Regions from separate parts of the Homo sapiens genome. Here region 2 is linked to region 1. The links come from fine-mapping of genetic effects on gene expression. A gene starts in region 1. The other region holds a variant in brackets. All regions are shown on one strand. Distances are between the middles of the regions.

What was found. PIP is the estimated chance that this variant, and not a neighbour inherited with it, causes the effect.
Region 2: its variant is the best candidate, but not a certain one, in a credible set for the expression of DERA in skeletal muscle (GTEx, PIP 0.60).

What each region holds. Positions count from the first base shown.
Region 1 is chr12:15,909,823-15,912,738 of GRCh38, reverse strand. It overlaps DERA (deoxyribose-phosphate aldolase), which reads right to left and starts at 1,407. Exons shown (of 9, transcript NM_015954.4): 1 at 1,325-1,407. The coding sequence starts at 1,355. RefSeq lists enhancers at 229-972, 973-1,717 and silencers at 1,120-1,469, 1,490-1,549.
Region 2 is chr12:15,960,461-15,963,376 of GRCh38, reverse strand. DERA (deoxyribose-phosphate aldolase) reads right to left here. Exons shown (of 9, transcript NM_015954.4): 5 at 430-564. Among named protein-coding and RNA genes, the nearest start is that of DERA, 51 kb to the right of the region's middle. The variant T/C (reference allele first, on the strand shown) is at 1,713.

The DNA of each region.
Region 1 (2,916 bases):
TTACATATAATTTACAGCCAATTTTCTCAAAATTAGCCCCTAAAACCATAACTCCATATACTAATACTATCTATACTGAAGACTTACTAGGTGTCCACAATATACCAAACTACTTTACATGTATCCTATTTAATCTCCTAACGGCCTTATAAGGTAACTACCACTAAAATAACCATTTTACAGATGAAGAAACTTAAGCGCAAAGTTATTAATTTGTCCGAAGTCACACAGGTAAGAAGTTAAAGATCCTGGATACACAGATATCCAAGCTATAATACTTAAACGAGACGCTTAAACCTTCTCTTGATCATGGTTTTGCTGTTTGAATTATAAATTTTTCACATGTTAAGAAATCTGAAGAAAAATTCTCTTCTGCCTTGGGATCCTGTTGATCTGTGACCTTATCCCCAACCCTGTGCTCTCTGAAACATGTGCTGTGTCCACTCAGGGTTAAATGGATTAAGGGCGGTGCAAGATGTGCTTTGTTAAACAGATGCTTGAAGGCAGCATGCTCGTTAAGAGTCATCACCACTCCCTAATCTTAAGTACCCAGGGACACAAACACTGCGGAAGGCCGCAGGGTCCTCTGCCTAGGAAAACCAGAGACCTTTGTTCACTTGTTTATCAGCTGACCTTCCCTCCACTACTGTCCTATGACCCTGCCAAATCCCCCTCTGCGAGAAACACCCAAGAATGATCAATAAAAAAAAAAAAAAAAGAAATCTGAACTAAGGTTTCTTGCCAGTATTTGAACAATATAAAAAAAGATGAAAACTGGGAAATAATACAGGTACTTTAACAAATCTTTGTAACTCTAAAATCCCATGAATCTGCAGTGTTACATTTTGAGCACAGACGGCTGACAACTTTTCCACGAGCACGGCCACTTCAAGGTTACGGTTAAAATTATCTACGGAAATACTGCATTAAATTACACAAGTATTCTATTAAAAGGAGGAGAAAGAAGGTTTTTATCTGTTTTTACCTGCTTGGGGGTTGTTTGTTTTGGGTTTTGTTTTTTGGGTTGTTGGGTTTTCCAACCAGCGAGCTAGAGTGAACGAAAAGGCAGGAAGATAATAATCTAACCCTTTCCTACTCCTTCCGCATACAAGAGTAAAAGCTTAGGTGCAAAGACAAGCGGCGCGAACGTGCCGGGTTCGGCCTTTACTTGGGGTGAGGGCTGACCAGACGCCACTGCTTCCCGCCCCAGCGAAAACCCCTCGGGGACCCACAGCCAGGGCACTGGGCGGCAGCAGGCCCCGCGCTAGTCCCGGCGGCGCTGAACGCGAGGGAGAGGGGATGGGGAGCCCCGCGGGCCCCTTACCGAGCTCGGTGCCCCGATTGTGCGCGGACATGGCGCGGGCAGCTCCGGAGCTGCCGGCTGGTAGGCGCCCGCCTCTGCGCCGCGCCCGGCCCTTCCTCCTTCCCGCCAGCTGGAGCGCTCGCCCCGCCCCTGCCCGCTCCCGGGGCGGAGTCGCGGGCCCGGGCTACGAGGTCTGTACCCTAGGAATATTGCTCCGCAAGGAAATCTCGCTGCTCCCCTCCCCCGTCTTCTCCACGAGGTACCGAACCGGAGCGCTAAGTAGCTCCCGGAAATAATGCTACCAACACCCTTTAAAAAATACTGAAGTTGCCAATTGCACGTAATAAAAATATTCCTAGAAACTTTTAACTGTAAGATTATATAACAAGAAGGAAGAAGATCCAAGTGCAGAGCTCTGCAACTTAAGGTCTGAAATGTCAGCAGGGATCCCATATCCTTGTTAGGGAAACCAAGGTGCAATCAAGGGCCCCGGGGCACACTGACTTTTCTAATCTACACATCATGAAAAGAAGCAGCTATGTGGCCTGAAGAAGGCAAGGGCTTAGGAGTCAGAAGACCTGGTTTCTTAGCCAAGCTCGGGCAATAATTAAATGTGTGACCCTGGGCAAATTAACTGCTTTTCCGAGCTTCATTTTTCTCATCTGTAAAAGAAGACCTTGACAATTTCTTGGTTCTTCAAAATACTATGATTCTATAAAGGTAAAATGCTTCAGCCTGATTTCTCTGTGACCAAGAGGTTAAAATCGTCGAGTCACTCCACAATCTCAATATAGTTAACTTATCTGTACTCACGTTTAGAGGCACCTCTGCTATGAAAACAGTACAGTTAGTTATGATTTGTCTACCATGAGCCAGTTATTGTGCTAGGTGCTTTCATACATCATATATAGATGTATGATAGCATTTGAGTCTCTGAACAATCCTGCCAATAATGTATTTTATCTCCATTGCTGTAACTTTAGACATCAAAGTTCTGAATAGAAAGGCATCCTGGTATAGGGGAAATACAGTGAGCTCAAAATGAGCTGAACCCATTAATATACCAGCTCTTCCATTTAATAAATGTAACTTGGCAGTTCTGGAAATAATAGTCTGTCTACTTACCTGTAAAGTGGAGATGATCAAAATATGTTCACCTTGCAAAGCTGTTGAATGTATGCAAGGCACCTAGTACATAACATGGCATACAGTAGATACTTAAAAAATGGAAGCTGTTAATGTTATTGTCAAGTTCACACAGTAATTACTGAGCTGTTTTAAATAGGAATAGTAATATTTGTATACTCCTCTACATTGAGCTTTCAGCCTTGTCCACACACAGCCACTGTTGAATGTTTCGGATGTGTGTAGATCTTACTCATACATACTATAGCACTTTTCTTTTTTATATTAACCTTGAAAAAGAGAAAAGCAGGCCCTGAAAGCCTGGAGCTGGCCTGAAACTCACAACTGGACCATGGTTTTCCCTGGTTAAACGTATACAATTTCACAGCACAGCATCAGCCAAGGCCATTGTGACCACAATGAATCAACAAAAACATAATCATAATCATGTCTGATAATAGAAAACCATGAATATTGTTCAAATAGCC
Region 2 (2,916 bases), 51 kb before region 1:
GCAAAAATTAACATAAAAAAGGGAAGTTTCCTCCAATATATTCAAATAAACTTTGCATAAAAGACTTGCCTGGAGTGAAGTATGTATTGAGTAACAAAACAGTATAGAATAGTAGTAACTTTTCCCTTCTGAAGAAAAAGCATGTTGGTAAAATAAAATTGTTTTAAAAGTTATGAATCTATTGCATGGAAGTAACTATTCACCTAAGCACTCAAAAGGATCTGAAAAGTTCATGTAGGTAGGCAACTGCCTAGATTTATGAGGGGCACAAGGATGGGTAATCTTAGCCTGCTTTCTCCTAAACTCACCATTTGATCTACTAACTTGTCACCTAGAACAGTGACCTCTAAAACATACCACATCTTACCTCATCATCTGATTCACCAGGGAAGAATGGTGAAACTCTCTTAGGTAAAAGCATGCACCTACCTTCCCACTGGCCTGTCAGCACCAAGCTTCTGTTAATTACCACGTCGATTTCTGTAGCTCCATCTTCCACAGCCAATCTGATCTCTTCTAATCGTGTCTTCAAATGAGTCTGTCCAGCTGGAAATCCAGCGGCCACTAATAGAGTTAAGAAAGGAAATGAAGAAAGAGGGAAGGAGGGAAGAAAGAAAGTAAGCAAGGGGGGGAGGGGAAAACAAATTTCAATTGGTCAGTAGTAGTTCATCAAAGAATTCCAAACCCCCAAACATCAGCATTTAAAGACCAATGCACTGACACTTAAGAACATCACTTATGCATAAGTGTGAAGAAATTGAATGTTCTCTCATATTAGTGTTAGGACAAATATCATTTTCTGGAAGACCTGAAATTAAGATGCTGCAGAGATGCTCATGAAGGTGGATTAAGTAACCAGCAAAGATGTTTTATCTTCACAGTGATAGCCATAAAATAGTAGTGGTAGCCCTATCTTAATGAACACTAGTTATCTAGCACACTAGTTCTGGGTCCAAATCTTGATCAAGTTAGCTATCTTGATTTACTCATTTACCCTTGATTTATCTTGATTAATTCTCTCATGAACCTCTTTAGCTGTGGTAAACAAACTGTCCTATGTGTTCCTCCCACTGCCTATGTTAAAAACAACCAGCCTGGCAGATGAGCATAAAGAAAAGAGAATGCAGGAGGAAAACACACCTAATTAGTCCACCAAATTGAGGCAGGGGCAGGGTTGGGAAGAGCAGAGCCAAGTGTAAATAAGAGGAAAATGAAAACACAAAACACAACTACACTCTTGAAAAATAGTAACATCTTTTACATGCACATCATTAACTCTCCATCCCTGTTTCTAAAAAAACCTGTCATGTTACCTTGATATTAAATTCCTTGGGGCTGGGCACAGTGGCTCTTGCCTGTAATCCCAACATTTTGGGAGGTCAAGGCTAGCGGATCATCCGAGGTGAAGAGGTTGAGACTAGCCTGGTCAACATGGTGAAACCCCATCTCTACTAAAAGTATAAAAATTAGCCTGGTGTGGTGGTGCACACCTGTAGCCCTAGCTACTTGGGAGGCTGAGGCAGGAGAACTGCTTGAACTCAGGAGGCGGAGGCTGCAGTGAGCCGAGATCGCGCCACTGCACTCCAGCCTGGGTGATAGAGCGAGACTCTGTCTCAAAAAATAAAAATTAAAAAAATTCCTTAGGTCTGTTACCTTAGAGGAAAGCATGTTTCTCTGTTGTTTAAAGCAAAAACTGAACTGACTGAGGCTGA[T/C]GAAAAATTAAGGTCTATACAAGTGTAGCTGCCAAATACTTCAGGAATCCTCATAAATCAATTCTATATAAATACTGTGCACCATGTTTCTTTTAATATATTCCTAATAAGCTAATGACCTTTATAAACTCCTTTTAAATTTTTACTTATTTTATTTTTTTGTAGAGATCTTTGTTGCCCACACTGGTCTCAAACTTCTGGCTTTAATCAATCCTCTCGCCTGAGCCCCCCCAAAGTGTTGGGATCACAGATGTGAGCCACCATGCCTGGCCTAGACTCCCTTTTTAAAGCATCAGGATATTCCTCTAACATCTCTTAAAACTAGAATCTAATTTTATATCTGTCTATTCATCCATCCATATACACACAGATACACATTTACCAAACTAATGTTTTAAAGACTTTTCTGTCATACCAAGTCCTACCGTGTCTATCTGAAGTCAGTGACTTCTGAATGCACTCTCTCCTTTATCTTCTAGGTTTTGTGTGGCTTTTATCAGGTCCTGCATGTACTGTGACAAGTCTCCCCTAACTCCATTTCACTCCTTTTCTAATTTATCCAGTACCATCAGGTAACTTACTATGCCATGAAGCTGATCACGTCACGCCTCTAACCTTTCAGTGTCTTCCCTATCATCAGAATACAGGCCAAATGCCCCCACATGGCATGGATCCCCTCTGCAATTCTGCCCTGATCTCCCTCTCTAGCTTCAACTCCTGTATCTCCCCCTTTGCCCTGTCTTCAGAGCCCTGCCTTTGTAGTCAACAACAGCAAACCTTTTCCAGTTCCCTGAACATGCTTTGTGCCTTCACACGTGCTAGTGCCTCTGTCTAACATGTGGTTCCCTACCTTATTAACACTGTGAACTCCTCCTCATCCTTTAAGATCCAATGCAATTATCTCCACGACGATGCTTTCTCTTACTTTGGTGTCACCAACCTCTGCAGAATATATCATTCCCTGCTCAGAACCGCAACTACACATTTTGCACATATCGTTGTTTTTTTTTTTTTTTTTTTTTTTTTTTGAGACGGAGTCTTGGTCTATCACCCAAGCTGGAGTGCAGGGGCATGATCTCAGCTCACTGCAACCTCTGCCTCCCAGGTTCAAACGATTCTCCAGCCTCAGCCTCCCAGCAGCTGGGATTACAGGCACCTGCCACCATGCCTGGCTAATTTTTGTATTTTTAGTAGAGATGGGGTT